7 separate regions of the Homo sapiens genome follow, and all the other regions are linked to region 1. Evidence: fine-mapped expression QTL. A gene starts in region 1. Each other region holds a variant in brackets. All regions are shown on one strand. Distances are between the middles of the regions.

The links.
Region 2: its variant is fine-mapped to the expression of COMMD10 in whole blood (TOPMed, PIP above 0.99). The same link has a PIP of 0.9 or more in lung.
Region 3: its variant is fine-mapped to the expression of COMMD10 in whole blood (INTERVAL, PIP above 0.99).
Region 4: its variant is fine-mapped to the expression of COMMD10 in whole blood (TOPMed, PIP above 0.99).
Region 5: its variant is fine-mapped to the expression of COMMD10 in whole blood (TOPMed, PIP above 0.99). The same link has a PIP of 0.9 or more in blood mononuclear cells, hypothalamus, lung, monocytes and skeletal muscle.
Region 6: its variant is fine-mapped to the expression of COMMD10 in whole blood (TOPMed, PIP above 0.99). The same link has a PIP of 0.9 or more in blood mononuclear cells.
Region 7: its variant is fine-mapped to the expression of COMMD10 in fibroblasts (GTEx, PIP 0.92).

What each region holds. Positions count from the first base shown.
Region 1 is chr5:116,082,011-116,086,736 of GRCh38, forward strand. It overlaps COMMD10 (COMM domain containing 10), which reads left to right and starts at 3,015. Exons shown (of 7, transcript NM_016144.4): 1 at 3,015-3,083. The coding sequence starts at 3,043. RefSeq lists enhancers at 2,809-2,968, 3,262-3,556.
Region 2 is chr5:116,110,719-116,114,718 of GRCh38, forward strand. All of the region lies in intron 4 of COMMD10 (COMM domain containing 10), which reads left to right. Among named protein-coding and RNA genes, the nearest start is that of COMMD10, 28 kb to the left of the region's middle. The variant C/A (reference allele first, on the strand shown) is at 1,829.
Region 3 is chr5:116,168,064-116,172,063 of GRCh38, forward strand. The region is part of intron 5 of COMMD10 (COMM domain containing 10); the gene reads left to right. Among named protein-coding and RNA genes, the nearest start is that of COMMD10, 85 kb to the left of the region's middle. The variant T/C (reference allele first, on the strand shown) is at 1,515.
Region 4 is chr5:116,447,252-116,451,977 of GRCh38, forward strand. It overlaps SEMA6A (semaphorin 6A), which reads right to left. Exons shown (of 19, transcript NM_020796.5): 19 at 1-560. SEMA6A-AS1 (SEMA6A antisense RNA 1) reads left to right here and starts at 247. Exons shown (of 3, transcript NR_109879.1): 1 at 247-540; 2 at 2,377-2,566. The variant C/T (reference allele first, on the strand shown) is at 2,565.
Region 5 is chr5:116,295,960-116,300,685 of GRCh38, forward strand. No RefSeq gene overlaps it. Among named protein-coding and RNA genes, the nearest start is that of MIR12130, 43 kb to the left of the region's middle. The variant T/C (reference allele first, on the strand shown) is at 2,362.
Region 6 is chr5:116,194,916-116,198,915 of GRCh38, forward strand. The region is part of intron 5 of COMMD10 (COMM domain containing 10); the gene reads left to right. Among named protein-coding and RNA genes, the nearest start is that of MIR12130, 59 kb to the right of the region's middle. The variant T/G (reference allele first, on the strand shown) is at 2,262.
Region 7 is chr5:116,303,868-116,308,593 of GRCh38, forward strand. No RefSeq gene overlaps it. Among named protein-coding and RNA genes, the nearest start is that of MIR12130, 50 kb to the left of the region's middle. The variant C/G (reference allele first, on the strand shown) is at 2,533.

The sequences.
Region 1 (4,726 bases):
GTGGGGGCCAATATTCAACATTCTTAAAGAAACGAATTTTCAACCCAGAATTTCTTATCTAGCCACACTAAGCTTCATAAGCGAAGGAGAAATAAAATCCTTTACAGACAAACAAATGCTGAGGGATTTTGTCACCACCAGCCTGCCTTACAAGAGCTCCTGAAGGAAGCACTAAATATGGAAAGGAAAAATCAGTACCAGCCATTGCAAAAACAGACCAAAATGTAAAGACCATTGACACTATGAAGAAACTACATCAACTAATGGGCAAAATAGCCAGCTAGTATCATATGACAGGATCAAATTCACACATAATATTAACCTTAAACGTAAATGGGCTAAATGCGCCAATTAAAATACACAGACTGGCAAATTGGATAAAGAATCAAGACCCATTGGTGTGCTGTATTCAGGAGACCCATCTTGTGTGCAAAGAAACACATAGGCTCAAAATAAAGGGATGGAGAAATATTTACCAAGCAAATGGGAAGCAAAAAGAAGCCGGGGTTGCAATCCTAGTTTCTAGCAAAACAGACTTTAAACCAACAAAGATCAAAAAAGACAAAGAAGGGCATTACATAATGGTAAAGGGATCAATGCAACAAGAAGAGCTAACTATCCTAAATATATATGCACCCAATATAGGAGCACCCAGATTCTAAAGCAAGTTCTTAGAGACCTACGAAGAGACTTAAGACTCCCACACAATAATAGCAGACAACTAAAAGGACTTTTCATGGACATAGATGTCTATATTCCAGAGAATGCAGAAATATCTTGGGTGAGGTTCTCATTTGAGGTGTGAAACTATTCACAGCATCACGCCTTTATAGAAACATGGTAATAAGAAGTAATCAGCCCATCATTGAAAATGAAGAGCATTAGAGTGAGTCGCCTCTGTGTCCACTGGAGACTTGCTTTTGTGAACACCTAAGAGGTCTGGGTTTTGTTTTCTAAGGAGGGTAGAATGTTTCTTTTACATACGTACCACATTATTTAAATCTCATTAAGATCCAAGGGAGCAGACATTATTCTCATCCCCATTACAGATTGGGAATGAGAAACTTGTTGAGGTTAAGTACTTTGTCCAAGGTTACATGGATTTGGGATTTGAGCCATCTTGATGCTCTTTTGCTCAAAATTCTGGCTATATATTTTTAAGGCAATCAGAGGGTGAACTTCATTAGGGATTTGAAACAGTTTTAGTTGGTTAGTGGTTCTACTTCAGGTAAGGAATCAAGACAAAAGGGAAATGATTCAAAGAATGAGGGAACTGGGACCCTTTTAAGTTGCAGATGAGGTCATCTGTGTTTGGATCAGAGACCTATAATTTATGTAGATTCACATACATCTTTTTCAGATATGCATACATTGGGGACTGTAGAGTGTTGTGGAACTAAATGTATTTGTATGTGTTCAACACACTGTATAATTGACTCAATTATCCATGTGGAGATTATTCAGATTTAATGTGCAATCTGGTTTCTCCTTTCAGTTAGGTTGTTCTTGGGCTGCTCCAGGAACTCCAACTAATTTAAATAATAATTTAAGTAAAACATAATTAGGAAGGAAAATTAAATTCAATTTTTTGGCAGCTCTTGAATATTCTACTGCTGAAACGTAACTAATCCATCCACTATCTTTTAATTCACCAATGCCTTTTTAGTACCACAGGATTTTACTGCTTTCTATAGATTATTGCAGTAGTTTCCAGGTAGCTCTCCTGCTTACCTCTTTCCATTTCAATCATCATTCTGCTGACAGCAACCTTCAAAAATCCAACTCCCACTGCAAAATTTCTTTGGTTCAAAACATTTAATGGATAGAAAAAACATTTAATGCTTACCCATTTCTCACCAGATTAAGTGCACATGCCACAACCAGTCATTAAAGGCTTTTTCTAGTCTAAATTCCTGTTCTTCAAACGTCAAACCGCCCTTCTACTCTACTGACCTGAAACACACAGCCTCACCCTCCACATCTCTGCAGACCCACCGCATTTGCCACCTGCCCTAGGGAGCTTTTCCTGATCTTACCTCGGATGCCTTTCACTGCTCCCACATCTGAATTCCTTTAACTCACTCCATGTTTTTCTCAAAGGCAGACCAAGGTATTTATGCAAACATGGTGTCTCCCTAGTCTTGGGTGAGGTCTTTGACATCACTCACTGCAGCGATTCATCTCCCCTACTCTGCACTGTCAGACTCTAAAGAAGGGTGCAACAAATACTTGTCCATTTAGACTGCCGGCAAACCCTGAGGGCAGGAATTTTGGCCTTTTGTATCTCCAGTGCCTAGAACAGTGCTTGGTACACAGTAGGCACTCATTCATTGAACGTTGCTGAAGGAATTGAACGTACATACTACAAGCCCTGCAGATGCAGATACAGGAGGGGTTGACGGCACAGTGCTTAGGGTGGAACTGGAGGCACCACCTCTCCTGAGGGGTGATGCGCCGCTTCCTGGGCAGGCTCGGGGGAGCTCGCTCAAATGCCTGCCTCTCTGTAGCCCAAACGCTGGAAAAAAAAATACTCACAAATCACCTATCCAAGTATGTACACACAGGCTCACTTAAACCCGCCCTATTAAAAAAATATACACACGCACACACCATTTATCCAAGTATGTATACACGGGCTTGCTTAAACCTGCCCTATTAAAAATAATAATGTATATATTTATGCACGAACATACACACATATATCTATACAGGTCTGTACATAGACTTGCTTAAACCTGCCCTATTAAATACAGACACACACCCCTATCCAGGTATGTACATACATATATAATATATAAATATAAAGACATATATATGCACAGACTTAACTCCAACACGATTGGAGTGTCGGGAGGGCAACTGGGCTGCCCTCTCCGCCCTCCAGGACTGCGGGACAAGTCTCCCGGCGCCCGGGTCGCAGGAGACCCGGAGCCCTAAAACGGCCCCTGCGCGGCTTGGGCCTTCCGGCTTTCCGTCCGCCGCGGCCGCCATTGGCTGGGTTCGGCGCAGCTAACAGACGGCGGCAGTGCGAGAAAGCCGAAGATGGCGGTCCCCGCGGCGCTGATCCTACGGGAGAGCCCCAGGTAGCTGATCCGTTAAGCTCTTGCGGTAGCCGCGCCCAGGAAGGCCCAGATCGGGCTCGCACAAGGCTGTCCTTGCTGCCTGCCGCCTGGGCGCCGCGGCGGGCCCGGTTGAGTGGGGTGGGGTGGGGTGGGCTGCCGAGGTTGCGACGCTGCGTCTGCGGAGTGCGTGGGGCCGTGTAGCGCCTCTACAGTCACGGTGGTCCACCTGTGGGGCTCACAGTGCGCCTGGCAGCTGAGGTCTGTACGGAAGCGTGTGGTCTGCAAGCGTGGGGTCTGCGTCACTGTTCGCGGAGTTTGGTATCAGAAGTTCCCGGGTGCTGCCTTCAGTGCTGCCGAATCACGTGGAACGGTATTCCGTTTCCGATTTCAGTTCCGGTTCAGACACTCTGGTGGGAAAGGCTCACGCTGCTGCTGGAGGGTCTTTAATAGCCAACATGTGTTAATACCCCTTTTAAATCAGTATCGAATAGGGGACCGAATTTTTGGTTGGTAGAAGAATCTAGCCTGGCTTTGGTAGCATTTGCTTTTATTTGCATTTTAAACAGATTTTTAGTTAATTTCTACTTATGGTAGATAAAGTTGGTTGTCCATGGTAGTGATATAAAGCTCCCCTTTAACATTATTTAAGTAAAAAAAGACTCAATTTGTGAAAAAATAAGCAATAGTGCAGGTAGCGTGTGGATACAGAAAAAGTACTGAAGTATATAGGCAAAATAGTGTTCGGAAGTAATTTCTTTGTGCTTGGATTGGGTAGAAATCTTTCAGAAGAAAAGAGTTATTTTAAAGTTTTTCCTTCTTTCTGGATTCCTTTTGTTACCAGTGGAGGGTGTCCAGGTTCTTGGCGTCTTGAACAAAGAACTGGAGAAGACGCACAAAGAAAGCGAGGAAAGAATGAAGAAGACATTTATTGAAAATGAAACTACCCTCCACAGTGTGGGAGCTGCTTGAGCATAGGGGCTGAAGGGCCCCTACAGAATTTTTGGGAATTTAAATACCCTCTAGAGGATTCCATTGGTTACTTGGTGTACTCCCTATGTAAATGAAGAGGATGAAGTAAAGTTACAAAGTCATTTTCTCCGCCTATGCCATATGGAGAGGACATTTCTTGTCATAGCTGAAGTGGGAATCAGCTTTATGTTCCCAGCCTCCTGACCCTATTTTCCTGCCTCACTTTGGTTCTGATCGCCAGTTTCTTTCCTCATACCAGTGTCTTGGGGAACACCGCTACATCAGTAAACTGTATCCAATATGGTGCAGTATAGAATTGTTCTCATCACATCATTTAAAGTTGATTATTACAGGAAAGGTGCTGTGGCTCATGCCTGTAATTCCAGCACTTTGGGAGGCTGAGGCGGGCTAATCTCTCTCTCTTTTTTTTCCCTGAGAGGGCGTTTCCCTCTTGTTGCGCAGGCTGGAGTGCAATGGCGCCATCTCGGCTCACTGCAGCCTCCGCCTCCTGTGTTCAAGCGATTCTCCTCCCTGAGCCTCCTGAGTAGCTGGGATTACAGGCACCCGCCACCACGCCCAGCTAATTTTTTGTATTTTTAGTAAAGATGGGGTTTCACCATGTTGGCTAGGCTGGTCTGGAACTCCTGGCTTCGGGTGATCTGTCCTCCCTGGCCTTGCAAAGTGCTGGGATTATA
Region 2 (4,000 bases), 28 kb after region 1:
GGAGGCCTTGAGAAACAAAACAATCATAGCAAAAGGTGAAGGGGGAGCAAACCCATCACATGGTCAGAGCAGGAACAAGAGAGGAAGGGGGGAGGTGCTACACACTTTTAAACCACCAGATCTCAAGAGAATTCACTATTGTGAGGACAATACCAAGAGGGGTGGTGCTAAATCATTCCTGAGAAACCTGCCTCCATCATCCAATCACCTCCCATCAGGCCCCACCTCCAACATTGGGTATTACATTTCAATATGAGATTTGGATGGGAACATACATCCAAACTATATCAGGTTATATGTTTCCAGAAATTTACCTATTTTCTGCAAGTTTTCTAGTTTATGAACATGTAGTTGTTCATAATAGTCTCTGATGATCTTTTGAATTTTTCTCATATCATTTGTAACGTCTCCATTTTGATTTCTTATTATATTTGGATCTTCTTTCCTCTGGTTAGTCTTGCTAGCACTTGATCAATTTTGCTTATCTTTTTAAAGAACGAGCTTTTTGTTTCATTAATTTTTTAATTTTTTTTTGGTCTCTGTTTTATTTAGTTTTGCTCTGATCCATGTTACTTCTTTACTTCTGCTAATTTTGTGTTTGGTTCGTTCTTGCTTTTCTAGTTCCTTTAGATGTATTGTTAGGTTGTTAATTTGCAATCTTTCTACTTTTTTGATGCAGGTATTTATTGCTGCAAAATTCCTTCTTAGCACTGGTTTTGCTGTGTCCTACAGGTTTTTGTATGTTGTATTTCCAGTTTCATTTGTTTCATAAAATTTTTTAATTCTCCTTAATTTTTTCATTGATCCAAAGGTCATTCAGGGGCATATTGTTTAATTTTTCTGTATTTGTATAGTTTCCAGAGTTTTTCTTGATATTGATTTCTTGGTATTGGTTTTATTCTACTGTGGTCTGAGAAGTTACTTGGTATGATTTGATTTTTAAAAATTTGTTGAGGCTTGTTTTGTGGCATAACATATGGTCTATATTGGAGAATATCCCATGTGTTGATGAGAAGAGTATTTATTCTGCAGTTGTTGGATAGAATGTTCTATAAATGTGTGTTAGGTACATTTTGTCTGAAGTCCAATTTAAGTCTGATGTTTGTTGATTTTATGTCTCAGTGAGCTGTCTAATGCTGTGAGTGAGATGGTGACGTCCCCTATTATTGTTTTTCTGTCTAACTCTCTTTAGGTCTAGTAATATTTGTTTTATGAATTTGGGTGCTCAAATGTTGGGTGCATGTATGTTTAGAATTGTTATGTCCTCTTGTAGAACTGACACCTTTAATATCAGGTTTTATACTTTTGTGTTTTCTTGATGGGGTTGCCCTGTCTCTTTCAAGTTTAGGACTCCTTTGAACATTTCTTGTAGAGCTGGTCTACTTTTGACAAATTCTCTTAGTATTCTGTTAATAATCTGTCTGGGAAAGAAGATTATTTCTACTTCATTTATGGAGCTTGATATTTCTCGATGTAGAACTCTTGACTGATAATGACTTCATTATTTTTTACTATTTTTATTTTAAAGTATGCTTTATCTGATAAAAATATAGCTACCTCTGCTTGCTTTAGATTTTCGTTGGCCCATAATATCAATCAATATCTTTTTCCACCCCTTTACTTTTAGTCTATGTGTCTTCACAGATAAGGTGGGTTTCTTGTAAATAGCATATAGTTGATTTTTTTTCTTTTTTTTTGAGATGGAGTCGCGTGCTGTCGCCAAGCTGGAGTGCAGTGGCGGGATCTCAGCTCACTGCAACCTCCGTCTCCCAGGTTCAAGCAATTCTCCTGCCTCAGCCTCCTGAGTAGCTGTGACTGTATATAGGTG[C/A]GCGCCACCATGCACAGCTAATTTTTGTACTTTAAGTAGAGACTGTCACCATGTTGACAGAATGTTCTCTATCTCTTCACCTCATTATCCGCCTGTGTTGGCCTCCCAAAGTGCTGGGATTACAGGCATGAGCCACCGCTATATGGCCTATAGTTGATTTTTTTTATTCATTTAGCCAACGTGTATTTTTTAGTAGGACATTTAATCCATTTATGTTTGAGGTGGTATATGAGATTTTGTTCCTGTCATATTGTTTTTTTCATCATTTTGTAAACTTTTGGGTTTTTTGTCTGTCTAAATTTATGGTTTGTTGGAATTCTGTAATGGTTTCATTTGATTCTTCTTCTTTGTATGATATCTTTACTAGTGTATTTTATATTTTTGTGTGTTTTCACAATGATAAATATTGTCCTGTCTCTTCCAAGTTTAGGACTTCTTTGAGCATTTCCTGTAGGACTGGTCTAGTTTTCATGAATTCCCTCAGTATTTGATTGTCTGGGAAAGACTATTTCTCCTTTATTTATGAAGCTTAATACTACCTGGATATACAATTCTTGGCTGACAGTTGTTTTCTTTCACACTTTGATTATGTCGTCACATTTTTTCCTGCCTTGTAAGGTTTCTGCTGGGTAGTCTGCTGTTAGTTTGATGGACTTTCCTTTATAGATGACACTTTTCTCTTGATTGTAGAATTTGTTCTTTCACTTTGACATTAGACACTCATTATAATATGTTGTATTGAAGTCCCTTTTATGTTGTATTTGCCTGCAGATCATGGAGCCTCCTGTATCTATTATGTCTGTATCTCTTGCTAGCCTTGGGAGTTTTTCAATCTATTATTTTGTTAAAGATTTTTGATGTTTCTGTCCCTTTGGGAATACCAGTAATTCATAAGTTCAATGCTGTATGCAGTCCTAAACACTTGGAAAGCTTTGTTCATTTTTTTCTTATTTTTAAAATTTTTATCAGACTGCACTGTTTGAAAAGACCTGTCTTCATGTTCTGAAATCTTTTCTTCTGCTTGGCCTAGTCTATTATTGGAGTTTCCATGTATTTTATATCTCCTTCAGTGAATTTTTTAGTTCCAGGATTTTTTTAAAGACGTCTATCTCCTTGGTAAATTTCTCATTCATATCCTGAATTGATTTTCTGATTACTTTGTATTAGTTTTCAGATTTCTCTTGTATCTCATTGAACTTAATTGAAATCAAAATATTGAATTCTTTGGGGTTGTAAGGTTTTCTTTTTGGTTCTGCTCTATTGTTGGAGAATTATTGTGTTCCTTTGATGGTGTCATATTGCCATGCGTTTTCATGTTTCTTGTGTTTTTATGTTCATTCTAGCACATCTGGAACAATTGCTTTTTTTTTCAATTTAACTTTTGTTTGGAGTAGACTTTGCTCCTTTATATGTGACTTCGATGTTGGTTGAGTAGGGCCACTTGTTTTTATTTCTGGGTGTGCGCATTGGTGAATACTTTATGATATTCTTGGCTATAAATATTGTTATTGGTATCTGTGGATTCCTTTGTGTGTTAGGGTGTGGGTTTTGATGGAGGATGTGGTGAAATTATGCTAGGGACTGGAATGCTTGATAGGTCCTTCTTCAGGTTTCAGTGGTAGCAGTGGTTGTCTAAGCAGGTCTATATCTAGGGCAGTGTGTGCTGGCACATGAGTTGGCAGTTCCATGCAGGCTGATTATTGGGGGCTCTGGGTGGCTCTTTTGGATACCAGTTGTGGTAGCAGTGTACTGGGCAAGTGAGTGGGCTCATGAGCTCTTGGGTAGCTGGGTGGCCTCAGTAATGGTGGCAGCAGTAGTGGTAAGATGCTCTCCCCAGTGCCCTTGTGTTGGGAGTGATTGCAATTGGCTGTGTGGGCTGACCTCCAGGCTGGGTGGCACTTGCAGATAGAAACCAACCGAGAGAGTAATGGCAGGGTTTTTATGCCCAAACTCTGTCCCCTGGGAGAAGTGCTTGGGTGTCTCAGGCAGTGGGCTGGACTGTGGGACCTCCAGAAGTCCAGATCCTGCATTGTGTCTCAGAGAGTAGGGCAAAGCTGGGTAAATCTGGATTGGGAAAGCCTGGGCTTGTCCTATGAAATGCTTGCATGAGGGGTGACAACACCTTTGCTGAAGTACTGCCATGATGGGAGAGTGGGGCTACTGGTCCCAGTG
Region 3 (4,000 bases), 86 kb after region 1:
GGTGTGCTGTATTCAGGAGACCCATCTCGTGTGCAAAGACACACATAGGCTCAAAACAAATGGATGGAGGAATATTTACAAAGAAAATGGAAAGCAAAAAAAAAAAAAAAAGGGATTGCAGTCCTAGTGTCAGATAAAACAGACTTTAAAGCAACAAAGATCAAAAAAGACAAAGAAGGGCATTACATAATGATAAAGGGATCAGTGCAACAAGAAGAGCTAACTTTCTTAAATATATATGCACGCAATACAGGAGCACCCAGATTCATAAAGCAAGTTCTTAGAGACCTATGAAGAGACTTAGACTCACACACAATAATAGTGGGAGACTTTAACACCACACTTTCGATATTAGATCAATGGGACAAAAAATTAATAAGGATACTTAGGACTTGAACTCAGCGCTGGACCAAGCAGACCTAATAGACATCTACAGAACTCTCCACCCCAATCAACAGAGTATATATTCTTCTCAGCACTGCATCCCGCACTTATTCTAAAATTGACCACATAATTGGAAGTAAAACAGTCCTCAGCAAATGCAAAAGAATGGAAATCATAACAGACTCTCAGACCACAGTGCAATCAAATTAGAACTCAAGATTAAGAAACTCACTCAAAACCACACAAATACATGGAAACTGAACAACCTGCTGCTGAATGACTACTGGGTAAATAACGAAATGAAGGCAGAAATAAAAAGTTCTTTGAAACCAATGAGAACAAAGACACAATGTACCAGAATCTCTGGGACACAGCTAAAGCAGTGTGTAGAGGGAAATTTATAGCACTAACTGCCCACAGGAGAAAGCGGGAAAGATCTAAAATTGACACCTTACCATCACAGTTAAAAGAACCAGAGAAGCAGGAGCAAACAAATTCAAAAGCTAGCAGAAGACAAGAAATAACTAAGATCAGAGTAGAACGAAAGGAGATAGAGACATGAAAAACCAATTCAAAAAATAAATTCATTCAAAAAAAAATCAATGAATCCAGGAGCTGTTTTTCTGAAAAGAATTAACAAAATAGACCTCTAGCCACACTAATAAAGAAGAAAAGAGAGAAGAATTAAATAGACACAATAAAAAATGATAAAGGGGATATCACCACTGATCCCACAGAAATACAAACTACCATCAGAGAATACTATAAACACCTCTATACAAATAAACTAGAAAATCTGGAAGAAATGGATACATTCCTGTACACATACACCTCCCAAGACTAAACCAGGAATAAGATGAATCTCTGAATAGACCAATAACAAGTTCTGAAATTGAGTCAATAATTAATGGGCTACCAACCAAAAAAAAGCCCAGGACCACACAGATTCATAGCTGAATTCTACCAGAGATACAAAGAGGAGTTTCCTTCGGAAACTATTCTGAACAATAGAAAAAGAGGGACTCCTCCCTAATTCATTTAAGAGGCCAGCATTATCCTGATACCAAAACCTGGCAGAGACACAACAAAAAAAGAAAATGTCAGGCCAACATCCCTGATGAACATTGATG[T/C]GAAAATCCCAATAAAATACTGGCAAACTGAATCCAGCAGCATATCAAATAGCTTATCCACCATGATCAAGTCAGCTTCATCCCTGGGATGCAAGGCTGGTTCAACATATGCAAATGAATAAACGTGATCCATTGCGTAAACAGAACCAATGACAAAAACCACATTATTATCTCAATAGATGTAGAAAAGGCCTTCGATAAAATTCAGCACCTCTTCATGCTAAAAACACTCAATAAACTAGGTACTGATGGGACGTATCTCAAAATAATAAGAGCTATTTATGACATACCCACAGCCAATATCATACTGAATGGGCAAAAGCTGGAAGTATTTTCTTTGAAAACCGGCAGAAGACAGCGATGCCCTCTCTCACCACCCCTATTCATCATAGTATGGGAAGCCCTGGCCAGGGCAATCAGGGAAGAGAAAAAAATAAAGGGTATTCAAATAGGAAGAGAGGAAGTAAAATTGTCTCTTTTTGCAGATGACATGATTGTATATTTAGAAACCACATTGTCTCAGCCCAAAATCTCCTTAAGCTGATAAGCAACTTCAGCAAAGTCTCAGGATACAAAATCAGTGTGCACAAATCACAAGCATTCCTATACACCAATAATAGACAAACTGAGAGCCAAATCATGAGCAAACTCCCATTCACAATTGCTACAGAGAGAACAAAATATCTAGAAATACAACTTACAAGGGATGTGAAAGACCTCTTCAAGGGGAACTGCAAACAACTTCTCAAGGAAATGAGAGGACAGAAACAAATGAAAAACATTCTATGCTCATGCATAGGAAGAATCAATATCGTGAAAATGAAAATACTGCCCAAAGTAATTTGTAGATTCAGTGCCATCCCCATCAAGCTACCATTGAACTTCTTCACAGAATTAGAGGAAACTACTTTAAATTTCATGTGGAACCAAAAAAGAACCCGTATAGCCAAGACAATCCTAAGCAAAAAGAACAAAGCTGGAGGCATCACACTACCTAACTTAAAACTATACTACAAGGCTACAGTAACCAAAACAGCATGGTACTGGTACCAAAACAGATATATATACCAGTGGAACAGAACAGAGGCCTCAGAAATAATGCCACACATCTACAACCATCTGATCTTTGACAAACCTGACAAAAACAAGGAATGGGGAAAGGGTATTCTATTTAATAAATTATGTTAGGAAAACTGGCTAGCCATGTGCAGAAAACTGAAACTGGACCCCTTCCTTACACCTTATATAAAAATTAACTCAAGATGGATTAAAGACTTAAACATAAGACCTAAAACCATAAAAACCCTAGGAAAAAATCTTGGCAATGCCATTCAAGACATAGGCATGGGCCAAGATTTCATGGCTAAAACACCAAAAGCAATGGCAACAAAGGCCAAAATTGACAAATGGGATCTAATTAAACTAAAGAGCTTCTGCACAGCAAAAGAAACTATCATCAGAGTGAAAAGACTAGCTACAGAATGAGAAAAATTTTGCAATCTGTCCATCTGAGAAAGGTCTAATATCCAGAATCTACAAATAACTTAAATAAATTTACATGAAGAAAACTGCATCAAAAAATGGGCAAAGGATAGGAACAGACACTTCTTAAAAGAAGACATTTATGCAGCCAGCAGACATACGAAAAAAAGCTCATCATCAGTGGTCATTAGAGAAATGCAAATCAACATCACAATGAGATACCATCTCACGCCAGTTGGAATGGCGATCATTAAAAAGTCAGGAAACACCAGATGCTGGAGAGGGTGTGGAGAAATAGAAATGCTTTTACACTGTTGGTGGGAGTGTAAATTAGTTCAACCATTGTGGAAGACAGTGTGGCGATTCCTCAGGGATCTAGAACCAGAAATACCATTTGATACAGCAATCCCCTTACTGGGTATATACCCAGATGATTATAAATCATTCTACTATAAAGACACATGCACGTGTATGTTTATTGCAGCACAATTTACAATAGCAAAGACTTGGAACCAACCCAAATGCCCATCAATGATATACTGGATAAAGAAAATGTGGCACATATACACCATGGAATACTATTCAGCCATAAAAAAGGGTGAGTTTATGTCCTTTGCAGCATCATGGATGAAGCTGGAAACCATCATTCTGAGCAAAGTAACACAGGAACAGAAAACCAAAGACTGCATGCTCTCACTCATAAGGGGGAGTTGAACAGTGAGAACACATGGACACAGGGAGGGGAACATCACACACTGGGGCCTGTCACGGGTGTGGGGCTAGGGGAGGGATAACATTAGGAGAAATACCTAATGTAGATGACGGGTTGATGGTGCAACAAACCACCATGGCACGTGTATACCTATGTAACAAATCTGCATGTTCTGCACATGTATCCTAGAACTTAAATTATAATAAAAAAATCTGTCCGTTGTTTTGTGAATTATCATATTTAAACTCAGTTTCTGGTGGTTGATGTCCAAAATAAGATTTTGCTTAGTGGT
Region 4 (4,726 bases), 370 kb after region 1:
CAGGACCACCACGCTGGGGATGTGGCTGGGGGAGGCCCGCAGGGGCAGGTCCGTGGGAATCACAGGGGAGCCCATGGGGGGCATGTCCTTTGTGCAGGCATTGATGAGGTTCTGGTTCCTCTCCCACTCGCGGCTGCCGCGGCTGGGCTTCCGCTTCTGCTGCAGCGTTGGGGTTGACTCTGGGGTGGGGAGGGCCGTCAGGTCCAGGTGGTGCTGGTCTGCTTTAATGAGCATCTTGGCCGTGTTGCCGGGAGTGGCGAGCTTGCCGTTGTGCATGAGTGGCGTGAGGATGGCCTCCGGCTTTGGGTCTTTGGATTGAGTGTCCCCAAAGAGGCCGCTGAGCTTGGTGACGCTGCTCATGGAGCCCCGGCGCGAGTGGGTGAGCTCCTTCTCCTTGCGCTGCACCACAGCCACGTCTTTGCGCCGATGATCACAGACGCAGTAGACGGTGATGCCCGAGAAGACGGCCCCCATGACGAAAGCCAGGATGACTGCAATGGCCAAGAGGGTGACGGGAACCAGCTGGTCGTGGCCTTTGAGGTAACTTTCCCGAATCACTCCTGCAATAGACATCGCATATGGCGTTAAGAAATGAAAGCACACCCCGAGGCTTGTTTTTGCTTGGCATTCACCTTGTTAATTAATAACAGTAGTAAGTGACAACAGCACCTCTGCACAACTTGTCTTCCAAGCTCAGCTTGCCAAACATTAACCAATTAATCCTCCCCAAGCCCCTCGTGTGCAGTATGTAAATGGACTCCATTTGTAGCCTTCTTTGTTGTCTAAAAAAGTGCTGTTCAGGCCGGGCACGGTGACTCACGCCTGTAATCCCAGCACTTTGGGAGGCCGAGGCGGGTGGATCACGAGGTCAGGAGTTGAAGACCAGCCTGGCCAAGATGGTGAAACCCCCGTCTCTACTAAAAAAAAAAAAAAAAAAAAAAAAAATTAGCCAGGCGCGGTGGCGGGGGCTTGTGATCCTAGGTACTCCGGAGGCTGAGGTAGAGAATTGTTTGAACCTGGGAGGTGGAGGTTGCAGTGAAGGGAGATCAGGCCACTGTACTCCAGCCTGGGTGACAGAGCGAGACTCCGTTTCAAAAAAAGAAAGAAAGAAAAGTGCTGTTCACTCTTTCCAGTACCTGCACTTTCTACTCTGCTTCACTCCAGGGAATATGGGAGGTTTTGGCTTTCAAAAGTTATCTTTCTTTCCTTCTTTATGGCTTTTTAACCTTCCCTTCCTAGAACTGGGATAACCAAGTTATCCTGAGTCTGGAGGAAGAGGCAACAATTTTATGCATGTTAGACAAACAAATCACACACTCTGGGCTTCCAGTTGGGATCTTTTCCGACGGCCCCCTTGTGGCCACCGGAGCCTCCGTCTGGGGAAAAGTGTTTGCCTTTTAAGCAACTAGAGGAAAGAGAGTGTGTGTCATTTTTATTTACACTGAGAGAATATAGCTAAAGTTCACAGACTACAAATGTTTGTGCTGATTTTGCATCACCTCTCAAAAAAAAAAAAAAAAAAAAACAGTGCAAACTCAATTTCAGGTAACTATCCTGAATATTTGAATGAAGCTTTCTCACTGGAACTGAAAGAAGATTCAGAAATAAGACCATTTGGGGCCCTGTAGTGGGTTTGAGAAGTGTTAGGTACCATTATTGCACCTAGAGTTTGCTGTCACAGTGGGATTTTTCAGCAGAGCTAATCTCTTCAATTTAATAAAAATTATGTGACTACACCCATCCGTAATCTTACACTACATTAACCAGGATTCAGTGTTTCTGAAGGAAGGTGCTTTCGCTATTCCTGCTTAATCAGCCACCCAGCTGAGTGACTCTAATCAAATGCAAACACAGAAGCTTTTATTTTTTAATACCAAGTGAGAATACACATCACAGTTGTCAGATCTTAAGTGCTTGATGCAGTCGCTAAAAAATAAAATCTCTAATACCTCAATTCCTGCCTCTGGAGAGTGAAAGAACATGAATACATTAGAGGCACTGCATGGGCTGAGGAAATGTAAACATTGTTCCTATTATGGAAATGATAGCAAGACAGAAAAGGTACCTTCTCTGGTCTCGGGAGACGCATTTTTCATCTACTAAATCAACTCTTTCTGGAATATGTTTCATGTATTTTACTGGCAGGTATCAGTGGCACAGAATTAGAATGAAAGGAAATAAAGATCTCTACCCCTTCCCAAGCCCACAACACGCAACCTTAAACTTCTACTGAAATGTTGTCTTTGTCACAGCCGAGACCTTGAAGCTTTCTCATGGGGGTTTTTCTGCTAAAATATTTTGATTTCTGAAGTGATGGTTTTAAAACCCAGAAACCTTAGCCTGAAAAGTACATTCTCTTTTTCTTTCCTTCCTAAGGGTCCTCCTCCCTTCAATTGTGACATCACAGTTGGTTGCTGTGGAAATGATTGTCCTGTGACAAAGGATTGTGACTTAAGTAGAAGCAGCAAATATCTCTTAAGAAATAAAGATTCTGTGATCCAACAAATACCCTTGGTAATAAAAGGCAGTCAAGGCAATTCACCATAAGGAAAGAGTGTACAAGA[C/T]GGTAAGATATCAAATAATTTTCAAATGTGATACTTTTCAAATATTTCCAGATTTATCTCCATCAGCTTTTAAGGGGTAGAAACTGAGAAGCAAAAAACAGCCGGAAATTTGGCTGTAACTCACACCTTTTATGTGTGAAGCTCCCCAAACAGTGGGGTGTCCTGCATTCAAATATATTTTAGTACCTATTCACCAAGGAAATGTGCTAATGAAAATTTTCTTTCTTAAATTTGCATTTCCTTATTATGCTAAAATAGCTACTGATTTTTCTTCAATTTTGATTATGTATGGGGTTCTACCGAACACCGTTTTTAACCCCCTACATATAATTGCACAAAAATGTACACCTGTGGATAAAATGGTTTTAATTTCTCTCATTGACTTGGTGATTTCAGTGGGAGTTGAACACAGGCTAGACGGCCCCAGTAATGGGGTGGGGGTGTATTAGGTGTTTTTTTCATGGCAATGAGTATTTCATGAAACCCTTCCAGGCTACCAAATTTAGGGGGACTGGATATTCCCAATAAATGTGTATTATAATAGGAAGCTATTTACAATTGACTTTGGCATTCTACAATTTAAACTGCCCTCTCAGTTTAAAAGGAACGTGGAAAGAGTAAAGCTAGAGCAATTCATTGGTTTCACTGGGAAAACTGCAAATTTTTCACATGTATCCATTGCTTCTTAGCCTTACTTTTAGCTCCCAAATATCATTCTTCTTTCATGTCTGAAGGTCCTTGGCTATTTTAGACTCATGAAAGCTACTTATTCTTTCACTGGGAAGAACTCTTTTTTAGTGGATGATATTTGAGTTCAGGTTTTTGGTTGTTAACAAGTTAAGTAGGATCTGACCTTTCAGGAAAATGGTATCTCAGACAGATTTTTTCCCCCGTCTCATTTTGTTATATAAAGAGTGGCCTTAAAAACATTTTTGCATGTCTTCATCTATCCATGGGGAGGCAGAGGGCTTTCCTCATCTGCTTGTGTAAATTCAGAAACGTCCAAAGATGGAAACAGATCAGAGAGTAAGTTGAAAGTGCAGTTGAAGAAGATAAGGTAAACGTTATTTTTGGAAATGCCTTTCAAACTTAAAGCTTTCTGCTTATATCATGAAAAAGGCCAAAGAAGCATTCACAGAAATGATCAAGTCAACTTTGTGGAATAGCCATTGTGAAGGCTTGGAAACAGCAGACTTGTCAGTAGTGGTGATAAAAGCAGCTAGAGAAGATCTCAGTGGGCTTGGAATTGCAGGCTCCCACTTACTGGCTGGGTGACCTTTTGGCAAGTGACTTAACATCTCTGGGCCTCAGTTTTTTTATCTGTAGCATGAGGTGAACACACCTAATCTTACTGCCTTACTGGATTGTTACAAGAATCAAAGGAAATAAAAAATAGGAAAGAGCTTAAATGCTGTAGTTTGCTGGACAAATCTAAAGCTCAAAAGAAGCCACAAAGGAGAAGTGGTGGGTTAGTGGCTCACAGAGGGCTTCCAAGTGATAGTCGCAGCTGCTCCATTGGATTCCATTTGCTATTGGTCTCCCATGGGAGAGGAGTAGACCTGTGCTTCCAGGTCCAAACTTCGTGCCTTCTAAATGTAGTCAAAAAGGTGATATGAGATTTCGAAGCAATATAAGGGAATGCATACTGTTTCAGGATGCCTATAGTTACTGAATTTTGAAATAATTAAAACAACAGAAGTGGAAAATGTTGGCAATTATAGTTGGATTCTCAGTGGAGTGCAAATCCTGGGCAAGTACCACATTTTTTCGGCATTTATAACCCTTGCCATCCACAGAGCTCTTAGTTGGGTAACTCAACAAATGATGGCTGAATAAATGGGTTTTCAATACATTGTAGAGCTATTTTTAAATGAACTTCTAAACTTGGGAGGTAATCTTTAGAGTGACTATCACCCTTGCTTTTGAAGTCATGGAAATAAATTCTATCTCCAATCATATAAAAGAATTTTAATAGTAGCATCTATCAGACAAACAAAAATAAATCTATAATGGTGCTCAGTATTTGCTCAAAACAATAAGAAGAGAAACTATTTCAAAAATGAAATTAGTTCTGGGAAAAATCCAAAAGAGTCGATGACGATAAATGGGTTATTTACAACAACAGAGTGCCCCAGTGGAACTGAATAATTAGAAAAAAAAAA
Region 5 (4,726 bases), 210 kb after region 1:
GCAGCCCCTTCTTCCTTCTATACATTTCACCCTCAACATTTTTTATAACCTGAGGTCAGTGTTTGTTTAGGAAGAGTGATGGGACATATTGAGATATGTCACTTTGATAACTATAGAAGGATTGAAAAGGAAATCTCTTTAAAAATCAAATATGAGAGCCAATAACTCAGTATTCAAGTGTAAGGGCTTCGAAGTCAGGCATTTATTTATTCAACAAGTAATCACTGCTGAGTATGGTGAATATGGTGGCAGGAACTGTGTATGCTAGGTACCATGTTTACAGTGATAGGCAAAACTAGTTCTTGGCCTCTTGAAATGTAATGTGTTAGTGAAAAGTAAACAAATATGGAATAAATGAACAAATATGGGACAAAATATAATTGGATTCTATTCAGAGAAAATTAATGATGGAACCAAACTTGGACTGGGGCATCAAGGAAGGATTCTCTGAGGAGTGAGATTTGAGCTGAGTCCAATATGATGAGTTAAGATGGCACAATAGTAGAATAGAGTGACAGGCATTCTAGAGAGAATGGCCCATGCAAAATCTCAGAGGATGGGAAAGGCTTAGCGCATTTCAGGAACCAAAAGGTCAGTGTGGCTAGAGTGTAGTGAACAGATGGCATAGTGGAGTGCACTACAATTAGGTAGACAGGGAGCCATTCTCTTACAAGTTTTGTCGTTTTTACCACCAAAATGTATTGCAAGTGTATCTCCAGGGCACTACCCTGTCCAAGCTGCCATCAACTTTGCCCTGGACCACCTTTCTTCCATTCTAGCCCTCCTCCAGTCCAGTCGTTGTACAGAGCTAATTTTTAAAAAATAACCTATTAATTATACCATCTCCCTGCCTAAAACCCTTCAAAGGATCCTATTACACATTAAGTAAAATTTAACGATCTGGTTTCTCAGGACAGTGCAAAGGTTATATCCTTGTTCTTCTACTTTGTGTGTGTGTGTTGAGCAAGTTAATTTGTGAAAGTTCACTTTACTTATCTTTGTAATAGGAATAATAATCTAACTAACATGAGTGTTTTGAAGATTAAGTGAAATTCATGTTAAACATTTAGCATAATCCTTGAATCTCAATCATATAATAAGCATTAGCTGACATTTTTATAATCATTAAGAAAATAAGCAGACTCTCTGTTGAAATTTTTCCAGGTGAAGTTTGAATTAGAGTCAAAATTGTAGAAAGCTTGCTATGAAGCCCCTTCACTTTAAACTTATTTGGCATTCTAATAACAACTCCATTTTATAATCACAGATTCTAACACAATGCCAATTCTGCTTTTATTTTTTATTTAAAAAATGAGGTAATACATGTATTATGGGACCAGAATGAAAAAAATACTTTCTTCTGAGTACCTTTCCACGTGGCTCTTCTGGCTCTGAGAAATCTTTTTCTCTACTCAGTGAACTTTGATTTCTTCTTACCGTAAATAATGTCTTCTACACTTTATTCATTATACCAAGGATCAGCAAATGATGGACATGACCCACCACTTGTCTTTGTAAATAAAGTTTTATTGGAACACAGTTGTCTTGCTACCAAACTCACTCTTGAGACTTTCTCCCTTCCTTGCTTTGAAGAAATAATACCATGTTATAAGAGAGGCTGCGGATAGGGCTACATGACAAGGAACTGAGGGTGACCTCTAGGGGCTGAGGGAGAACAGCCAGCAAGAAATTGAGGCCCTTAGCCTTATAGCCTCTATGAAATAAATTCTGCGAACAACCTTGAATTAGCCTGGAAATGGGTTTTCTTGTCGTTTTTTTGTTTGGCTTTGTTTTGTTTTTTTCCCTGTTAAGCTTCTGGATGAGAGCACAGTCCAACTGACTCTTATTGCAGCCTTGTGAGATTTTAAACAAAGGACCCAACTAAACTATGCTTGAACTCTACCCATGGTAATTGTGAGATGATAACTCTGTTGTTTTAAACCTCTAACTTTGTAGTAATTTGTTACGCTGCAATAGATAACTAAAACAACAGCCATGCTCAATTGTTTACATATGGTCTGTAGCTGCTTTTGAACAACAGCAGGGTTGAGTAGTTGCAGCAGAGACCATATGGCCCACAAAGCCTAAAACCTGGCCCTTTATAGAAAGAAAGGATGCAGAACCCTGCTTTATACTATGCTCTCTAAACCGGAGCATCCCTAGAGAAATAAAGTAGTTGGTAGGGAACACAAAAAGTCGTAAGATGGACGTTGTATATATTTCAATAGCATCACTTCTACTTTTTGCCAGAAGTAGAAGAAATTACATTTTCTATCCTCTTTTGCAGCTACTGCAGCCGTGGAACTAAGTGTTGCTAATGAATTGTGAATGGAAGTGATCATTCATCTCCAGTTGTCTTCC[T/C]CTTTCTGTGATTGAAACCCAGATTTGGAGCTGAGTCAGCTTTGAGCAGACAAGAATGCTAATGCTTAAGAGGTAGGGAGCAACAAGATGGAAGGAACCTGGGTCCCTGAATATACTTATAGAACACAGCTGTCTCCATGCCCTTGACAGAAATAAAATATCTTGTTTGAGTTATTAAATTTGGGGTCAGTTTAGGCTATACACAGCACGTTTGCCTGTAGCCTAACTAATATGGTGGCAACATAATTTTATTATAATTGGCCAGTAATGTACAACATATTTTAAAATGGAGATTTACATTTTATGGCAAAATGCATATAAATGTTAAAGAGGAAATGGGAAACCTTAAAAAACAGAACAAAACCTTTGTGCTTGCAGCCTGCGAATTCAGGCTAAATTCTCAGTGTTACTGGGAACCTATATTCACCTCCCTCCTTCAGTGTGGTTATTTTGAGACAAATGTTTTGAGAAACCATAAGGGTATATTGTAAATTTCCCCCAAAGTCTTTCCATAATTCTTTTTCTACTGTTGAATAAGAGGACTGGGATGGTTCTGATTTATTCAGATGCATTAGTCAGAAGCTACTCAGGAATTATAATTTAAATTTCTGATCAATTTTGCTTCCCTAAAACTTTGATTTTTTTTTTGCCATCATTATGCAAATAGTCCTACTCAATAGACCAGCTTCATTTAATGCTAAAATTAGGAACACATTAATTTGAGGTATTTTATAGTAAAGCTTAATGGCATTTTTAATTTTGGAGAATTTTAAGGATTTTTAACCATTGCTCCCATCTCGCCATATGCACACTCCTGAAGTATTTTTGAAGCTCTTTTGCTTTTCTCTGAACTATAAGGTTGTACTAGCTGTTATGGAGGCCTACAATCCAAATCTAAATGATGGCAGTTTTCATAGCCTACTTTGTTTTATTTGAAATGGAAAGTTACTGATTTTTATTTCAAAAGAAGTAGTCTGCAAAGACAGGAAAGGTGAAGCCAGTCCAGTCAACAAATCTGTAAGGAAGATGGTGCTAGAGGCTTAGAGAGACTGTTTCAATCTCCAAGGCAGGAAAAATAATGAATATATAATAATCTTCTTTTAGTGAAACCAGAGTTCAGTCATTTTTAGCATCTTTTAATGAGAACCTGATTTTTTAATGATTTTTAAAGATTTTTCCTTCAAAAAATCTAGGTAAAGGAAAGCAGTTAATAGTAAATTTAATAGTTGCATTTATTTTTTTCTGACTTATGTTTGTATTTTTTTAATTGGCAAATAAAAATTAAAAACACTGTACATTCTACCCAAAACTTTAAAGGAAAGTCAATAATAAAGTTTTTTAAATCTATGATAAATATAGACTTGCTGTAAGGCAAGGAGTGCAGTGATTTCTCAAGGCCTTTCCTCATCTCTCCTTCTGAGATTTCTAAGTTTCCTTTGTGCACTATTTTTAGTCCACATTTCAAATTATTCTGCAGTTTCAACCAGACTACATAAGGGGACAAAGGAAAAAGCTGCTGTCCCCTGGATAAGGCTGCTTTAACACATCAACCTTGGAAGCTCCAGCATTCCTCTCCATCCCAAGAATGTGTTTATGCTTTGACAGAGGAGCAGAGTAATTTCCAGCTGATCAGAGAAAAGGTGACTTGTGTATTCCAGACCATGTGTTCTACTTTGCAGTCCAGCTTCTTACTCTCTTTCATGCTGCTGCAAGTAGTTCTACGAACATTGGGGTGCTTTAGAAATACTGAATGAATGAATTAATAGAGTATGTAGTTTTTTTCTGCCTTGGGCTCTCTCCATTTATTTGCACAGTACTATCTAAATTCTTAAAATAATTGTAAACTTAAAGTTGTACAAAAGTAGTTTTCAAACTGGTTTAGCCAGCTATGCTGGTATTTGGTAATTCCATTAGGGAATAGCCACATCCCTTCTAGGGAGTATCTCCTGAGGTCACTGATCCTTTTATTCATCATCCAGGAGATAAACATGAGAATAAAAGCCTTATAACCAGCCAGAGACCCAGATTTCTGCCCTCCAGAAGGCTAGAGCAAGTTCTCGCATTGCTGTGAAGAGATTTATGATAGTCATGAAGTTGACCTACACATGCTTCTGGGTACTGATGCTGCAAGACTGAAAACAGTTACATTCCTAGCAATTTCAGAGTTGTTTTATGTGATAGGGTCAAAATGAAGTGCTCCAGAGAGACATCAACAACATTCTTATACTGAAATATATGTTCAGTGTGTATAGATTTTCTGAGCTCATTACCCAGAAGATTTTAATTTCCTGCTGAAAAGAGTATCTTGATTAAAGACACACATAGACACACACACACACACACACACTCCTGTACACACTGCCTA
Region 6 (4,000 bases), 110 kb after region 1:
ACAAAATACTAGCTAACCAAATCCAACAACATATCAAAAAGATAATCCACTATGATCAAGTGGGTTTCACACCAGGGATGCAGGTATAGCTTAACATATACAAGTCAATAAATGTGATTCACCACATAAAGAGAATTAAAAACAAAAATCACATGATTATCTCAATCGATGCAGAAAAAGCATTCAACAAAATCCAGCATTCTTTATGATTAAAACTCTCAACAAAATCGGCATACAAGGGACGTACCATAATGTAATAAAAGCCATCAATGACAAACCCACAGCCAACATAATACTGAATGAGGAAAAGTTGAAAGCATTTCCTCTGAGAACTGGAACAAGATAAGGATACCTACTCTCCCTACTCCTCTTCAGTATAGTACTGGGAGTCCTAGCCAGAGCAGTCAGACAAGAGAAAGAAATAAAGAGCATCCAAATTGGTAAAGAGAAAGACTGTCAGTGTTTGACAATATGATCGTTTACCTTGAAAACCCTAAGGACTCCTCCAGAAAGCTCCTAGAACTGGTAAAAGAATTCAGCAAAGTTTCCGGATACAAGATTAATGTACACAAATCAGTAGCTGTTCTATACACCAACAGCGACCAAACAGAGAATCAAGTCAAGAACTCAACCCCTTTTACAATAGCAAAAAATAAATAAGTAAGATACGTAGGAATATAACTAACTGAGGAGTCAAAGACCTCTACAAGAAAAACTACAAAAGACTACTGAAAGAAATCATAGATGACCCAAACAAATGGAAGCACATCCCATGCTCATGAATGGGTAGAATCAGTATTGTTTAATATTACTCAAATCAGTAAGAAAAAAACAATCCCATCAAAAAGTGGGCTAAAGACATGAATAGACAATTCTCAAAAGAAAATATAACAAATGGCCAACAAACATATGAAAAAATGCTCAGCATCACTAATGACCAGGGAAATACAAATCAAAACCACAATGCAATACCACCTTACTCCTGCAAGAACAGCCATAATCAGAAAATCAATAAACAGAAGATGTTGGCATGGATGCAGTGATCAGGAAACACGTCTACACTGCTGGTGGGAATGTAAACTAGTACAGCCATTATGGAAGACAGTGTGGAGATTTCTTAAGGAACTAAAAGCAGAACTACCATTTGATCCAGCAATCCCACTACTGGGTATCTACCCAGAGGAAAAGAAGTCATTATTTGAAAAAGACACTTGCAAACACGCATGTTTATAACAGCACAATTCACAAATACAAAGTCATGGAACCAACCCAAATAAATGCCCATCAACCAACGAGTGGAGACTATTATTCTAAGTGAAGTAACTCAAGAATGGAAAACCGACCATTGTGCGTTCTCACTGTTTTGTGGGAGCTAAGCTATGAGGACACAGAGGCATTAGAATGATACAGTGGACTTCGAGGACTTGGGGTGAAGAGAGGGAGGGGGTGAGGGATAAAAGACTACAAATATGGTGCAGTGTATACTGCTTGGGTGATGGGTGCACCAAAATCTCACAAATCTCCACTAAAGAACTTACTCATGTAACCGAATACCACCTGTACCCCAGTAACTTATGGAAAAATAAATATGTTAAAAAAAAAAAGTAATAGCCAAATCTGTTAACTCTGTGATTCCTGCTTTGGTTAATGTAGATTATTATCACATGATATTAAAGAGTCAGGATTATGGAGTTAATGTTTTACTGGTGCTTTTTTTTTTAAAAAAAGAAAAATGTTTATTATTTAAGGCTGTGTGCAGTATGTGCTTATATTCAAACATCCCTTATGCTGTTAGTCACAGAAATACTAACTATGTGTATATGAATGGCTTTTCACAGTCTATATAATGATTGGAAAAATAACTAATATAGTATATTCTAAATGATGAATCTTTATCTTCCTATATAAAGGACATCATATTACTAATTTTCAAATTTATCAGTAAGACACTGAACAAAGCCTAAAAATTAATGGATATTGTTTTAATGTGATGTATGATTTACTAAATTAAGCTTAGGAGCATTTCTGTCGATGTATTCCTATCTTTCAGTATGTGCTTACATACAAATAACAACTTTGTAAGTATTTTCTTTTTACAGATTTTCAGTAATTTATATCAGAAGTATATAATCAAGAAACTTTAGTGTTTCTGTCCGTTAAATATTTAAAATATTTTATTCTAAAGTAAACCCTTTTGGCATTTTTTAATGTGGGGTTGCCTCATCAAATTTTGCATAGCCTACATTACAATCATAGAATCT[T/G]GAGTTTTGGAAGAGACTGTAAAGTTCATTTCATTCATTCAGCATCCATTTGGTGGTAGTGTGCTTTGAAGACTTACTAAGAAATTAACACCTAGGATAACATTTTTTACTTTGCAAAATGTCATTGTATTAATATTTTACGCAAACAATACATGAAATTACAGTACTTTTTTTCTGTTTCTTGCCAAATTGTAAGTAGAGTTGAAAACAGAATTATTTTTTGGAGATATGATCTTGCCCTGTTGCCCAGGCTGGAATGCAGTGGTGTGATCTTGGCTCACTGCAACCTCTACCTCCTGGGCTCAAGTGATTCACCCACCTCAGCTTCCTGAGTAGCTGGGACTTGAGTGCCACCAAGCCTGGCTAATTTTTATTTTATTTTATTTTTTGTAGAGACAGGTTCTCACTATGTTGCCCAGGCTGGTCTCAAACTGAGCACAAGTGATCCATCCCCCTCGGCCTCCCTACGTTCTGGGATTACAGGTGTGAGCCACCGTGCCTGGCCCCAGATTTTTATTGTCTTTGAAACAGAAAATTCATGAAAGGATTCTGCCATTTTATTCACCTTTCTGACACTGCAGTAAAGTGCAGATTAAAGTATAGTTCCCTGTGAAATAGCCAGTTACCCTTTGAGTAGACTCCAGTTCACATAAAGAAGTACAGGGAGATTACATGACTTGCCTAGGTTATATATTGAGTCAGTAGGAGAAGTAGAAATACTAAGTGCAGATTCACAGTTCAGTTTAGCCCAGAACTATGGATGCTTTCCTTATGGTTATTACCTGGAAGGCTTTACAATCACTGATGTACCCTCCCTGCTGTCTCCTCTCACTTACACATATGCAGTCTTGATTATTTTGATAATTTTTCTACATTTATACACACTTCACACATAATTTTTGTTTTTTTAAACCTCAGTTTATAGCCTTAAGTTATACTCAGGAATGTACATTGTACTCTTAAGCAGAAAGACCTTAATATTAGTTACAGCTGAAGAGTGAGCTTAATTTCTAAGTACATTTTGGTTTTTCCCTTTTTGTATGCCTTTTATAGGTGTTCACCTTTAGCAGCCAGTCTCTTGACTTTGCCTAATACTATAAAGAATAGCAAACATTGTATTGACATAATTGGTTGTTATGGAAGTCATTTTTAATAGAATGACCATACCTTATTTATTAAAAAATAATAAACTTTATTTTTCAGAGCAGTGTTAGGTTCACAGTAAAACTGATAGGAAGGTATAGAGATCCCCCGTATATTCCCTTCCCCTATGCATGCATAGCCTATCCAATTATCAGTATCCCCTATTAGAGTGATATGTTTGTCACAATAGATGAACCTATATGATTATCACTCAAGACCCTAGTTAATATTAGGGTTCACTTTTGGTGTCATACATTTCATGGATTTGGACAAGTGTATAATGACAGTACATCCACCACTGTAGTATCATATACCATAATTTCTACTACACGGAAAATCCTCTACAGTCCTGTTTTACATTTTCAGAAGTGTCATATACCTGGAATCATACAGTATGAAGTCTTCTCAGGTTTTCTTCTTTCACTTATTAGTATGCATTTAAATTCTCCATGTCTTTTCATGCATCGATAGCTCATTTATTTTTAGTACTAAATAATCTCTTGTCTGAAGGTACCACAGTTTATTTATTCATTTACCTACTGAAAGACATCTTGATTGCTTTCCAGTTTTGCTAAGTATAAATAAAGCTGCTGTAC
Region 7 (4,726 bases), 220 kb after region 1:
CAATGGTTTTTGATAGCCTTATAATTACTATATTCTAATAGGATGCTGAGCACGGCCTTGGCCGGTTAACTCTATTTGCTTAGTCATTCGTTCATTTACACATGTATTTACCCATTAACTAATAGGCCAGTCAAATGAGGTTACTTCTGGAGTGCTGTAGTTCTGTTTGCATATCAGGATCTACAATAAAAGCATTGCCTTAGGTCCTCAGGTAGAGGTTGATCAGGGGCAGAAAGGCTTTTCCTGCTGACTCCACCAGCAGCATTCTGGTAAGATGAAAAATGGAGAATGATTAGTGTGGGCCACCCTTGAGAGACTATGGTTAGTCATAATTGAGTAGACACAGCAATACCTTCACGAGACTATCCATCAAGAAATAAGTTTTTTAAACTGTAGTTCTAGTAAGAAAGACAAACCTATTTATTTTGTTTAAGTAAGTGTGCTTGGTGCCAGGGATTCGAAATAAGATAGGGGCTCATCTCTTTGGCCTTAATTCTAGGCTAAACATTACTCAGCTTGATGGTAAGTGTAAAACTGAATACAACTACTACAGCAATGACCCACTGGAAATGTGTAGCACTTTACAGTTTATAGAAATCCTTTTATATGCTTGTTCTCGTTTGATCCTTGCATTATTCTTTAGTTAATTGAACAAGTGTTATTTCCATTTTCTAAATGAACAAACTAAAACGAAGACACCTAAATCACTTGCCTAAGATTACACAGCTGAACTCAGACTAGAACTCAGAATGTCTAATCCCTAGTTTAAGGCTCTTTTAATACTTCACTGTGCCAATTATCAATTTTTGTCCCTCCAAATTTTCCCTTGAGTTCTCTCTCTGCCGTTAATGTTTGGAATCCCTTTAAGCTGTCCTCCTTTATGTGAGCACCATATTAAGCTTTCTAAGTAGAGGGTGCTGGAGGGATATTGCAGGAGGAAGGGACTTCTCTTGTAGGCTCCAGCAGCTGCACTGTTGGTCACTGGTATGAGTGTGAGTGCATCTGGTGGTACTGTGCCCCAGCCAGAGCACACAGTCCCTTGGTAAGCTTGCAGCCCTGACCTATCCTAGTGATCACCTTCTCATAGCCCTCCCAACACAGACACTAGAAATTCTAGCCCTCTTGCCCCTCTGCATGCCCACTCACCTGCCTCACCAGTTGTGACTCACTTGTACCCTGCCACTCAGATTTGCCCTCCTGACATGGACACTAGGAGTGCCAAGCCTTCTACCCAACAGTGATAGTCCCAAAGTATCTGTGCATACCCAATCTGGCTGTGGCTCATGTACTTCCTAGAGAGTAGCTTTCTTCTTACTCAGTGACTGTTAACCAGCTCTGGCATGAGCAAGCCAGCAAACCTCTCTTCCATCCATTGAAGTGCAACTAGACCTTCTGCAACCAGATAAGAACCTGAGCCTTGAGGAAAGATCCCCTTCCATCCTTCCTTGAGCACTCTCCCTCAGCCCTGTGGAACATTATAAAGTTCTCTTACATCTTATAGTTACTGTTTTCTTATAGCTTAATCTTTTTTTTTGAGACAGGTTGTCACTCTGTTGCCCAGGCTAGAGTGCAGTGGCGTGATCTTGGCTCACTGCAGCTTCTGCCTCCCAGGTTCAAGTGATTCTCCTGCCTCAGCCTCCCAAGTAGTTGGGATTACAGGTGTGTGCCACTGTGCCCAGCTAATTTTTGTATTTTTAGTAGAGACGGGTTTCACCATGTTGGCTAGGCTGGTTTTGAACTCCTGACCTCAGGTGATCTGTCTGCCTTGGCCTCCCAGAACGCTGGGATTACAGGTGTGAGCCACCGTGCATAGCCAGCTTAATCATTCTTTATATTAAGCTTCCCTTATTTAAATCACTGTTTGGTTCCTGTCTCCTGATTGGACCCCAGTTGATGCACTCACTAAATGTTGGTGTGAAGTCACAGACAAGGTAAAGTTTCCTATGGGTAGGACTTTATCATATATCTCACATCACTACAAGCACCTGCCTATTTTAATGCCTGACACACAAAAAGTCTTGAATAAGTTCTGATTAATTGAGCACAATTTAAGTTAATTTTAACACCCCTATTTGTTGAGATGTAATAACAGCCTACTGAGAGGTCCAGCATGCTGAGAGGAAAGAGTCAAAAATTTGTTCATGTATGTGATCACTTATTTGTTCAGTAATGTTGATCAATAATGTTGACTGGGATAAGCAGCACTGGCTCCAACTGCAGGTCAAACAGCAGAATTGGCCCCAACTGGGAGGCGGAGTGAATCATTGCTGTTAGAGGACAAGCAAAGGGAACATTCAGAAGGAAAGAATGAAAACAACACAGAAAGACCCAGAAAGAACCAGGGAAATACAGAGTACTCTAATCACTTCTGAGGCTCAGAGGGGACAAATGACCTGTCCCATGTCATGTAGCCCTCTTCTTGGCAGAGCCAAGAGTAGAGAGCAGATTCTATAATCCTCAGTCTAAACTCTTGACATTACATATTGCATTGCTTCTCCAAGTGGGGCAGGAAGGGGTGGTAATGCAAACTGC[C/G]ATTTCGGGAAGTGGTTAAAAAAAATACCTTAAAATGTGGTTATCCTTTACCTAGTAGTTCTAAAGGAGTCCATGTTTGGGATCCAAGAAATTCCCCTGCCAATGCTATTACCTTTTGGAAAACAGCTAGCAGTCTGTCAAATATGCTAGATTTGGGGTTTGACGCCCCTCAAGGTAATCAGTGACCTGTTAAACCACAGTATCTCAAGCCTTGTAGGCAAAGCAAAATGTTACCTGTCCTACCCCTGCTCAAAGTATCCATCATTTCTCTAATGTAGTCTCACACCCATATGTAAAGCCTCTCTAGCACTCCTTTCCAAAATCTGTAGCTTAATTATGCTAATGATCTTCATTTATCATGTTGGTTTACTTATCAGGACATTTTCCTATTTCTGGTCAGATGTTTTTCCAGGGATTCAAGGCATGGAATCCTTCATTAAGTGGGGAAGAACCAACAGAATTTGTTCCACATATTCCTCTGACACATCCCCAAAAGCATGACTTCTAGCCTGAATCCTACAATGAATGTATGGGTGTATGTGACACACTGTAATTTTTCATCAACAGATGGGTCACATATGAGCCAAAGATGAATGTAGATGTAGCAAGGTCTGTATGAACTAAGCCAAACCATGTTTAGAATGTCTTTGTTGGCTGTCATTGGGAAGTAGTGCATGCTGATTAACTGATTTGAGATGTGCATACGCCTCTGTGCTGGAAAGCAAGAGACACGTGGGTCCAGAGAAAATGGACCAGCCTGTAAGTGTCTTAGCAGAGGCCAGATGCTCTGCAAGGAGTTCCTGTGAAATGAGAGCTATACTTTTCAGACCACCTCTAGCTGAATACATCTAATTGGGAGTTGCAGGTGCATGGGAAATAAAATTTCCCTCACTGGGGAATTTGCTGCAGTGAGGATGGCTCTATTAAATCAGTGAGGAAGCAAACTTCCAGGACTTGGACATACTTACTTAGGCTATACACTTTGTAGGCTGGGCTTGCTCTAAGAGCCAGTCCTGAGATGCTTTCTGGCCTGATGGTTTTCAACAAAGCCACTATTTTTCTTTCTCTCTTCTTCCCTGTGTCTCTCATTCCTTGCACATATACTGTTCTAGAGATCTAAGGTTTTCTCCAGGAATACTCTTCTTTTACTTTTGTTTTATTCATTTAAGAGACACTGCTAAACTCTGGGAATACAGCAGCCCTCCGTGCAACTTCTTTTTGTTCGTTTTTAAATTGGGCAACACCTAATTCCATAAAATAGAATGAGTGTTTCTGAGACTTCTATTTTAGTCAAAATCTTGCCATCCTCTCTTAATAACCAATATAGGATTCTGTTACAGAGAGATTCAGAATAGTAGACTTCTGGACCTTGGATGTCACTGAGTTTAAGAGAAAGGTAGTCCCAGGACTCTGGTCTAGCAGCTGAGTAAGGCTCAGGCCTTAGAATGGCTTAGCTTGCTCCATTGCAATGCATCATCCTGGATGTTAAAATCCAGCTGTCTCTCTGAAAACTAAATATGAAAGACTGAGATTTAGTCAACTTTGCTGAGATTTAATTTACATATAATAAAATGAATCATTTTAACTGTGCAGTTCAGTAAGTTTTGAAAAATGTCTATACAGATTCATGTAACTGCCACCAAAATTGAGAAAGGACACTTCCACCATCTCAAAAGATTCTGTGTGTTCCTTTGTAGTAAGTCTCTTCTACCCCATCCCTAGACAACAGCTGATGTGCTGTCATTGTACACATATATTAGCTTTGCCTGTCCTAGAACTTCATGTTAATGGGAAGCATCCTGTATGTACTGTTTTGTGTCTGGCTTCTTCAGTGTATTTTTGAAATTTATCCACATTGTTGTGTGTATCCAAAGTGTGTTCTTTTTCATTGCCAAATAATGTTCTGCTATATGAATATATTACAAAATATTTGTCTGTTTATCTATTGGTGGATTTTTGCATTCGTTCCAGTTTGGGGCTATTATGAATAAAGCTTCTGTGAAAATTCGTTTCTGTCTTTTGGAAGACACATGTTTTCATTTCTCTTATAGAAATGCCTAGGAGTAGAGTGAGTCGTATGGAAGGTGTTTAACTTTATAAGAAACTGCTAAACTGTTTTCCAAAATAATTGTACCATATCACATTCCTACCATGCTTTTATGAGGGTTCTTAATGATCCATATCCTCACCAACA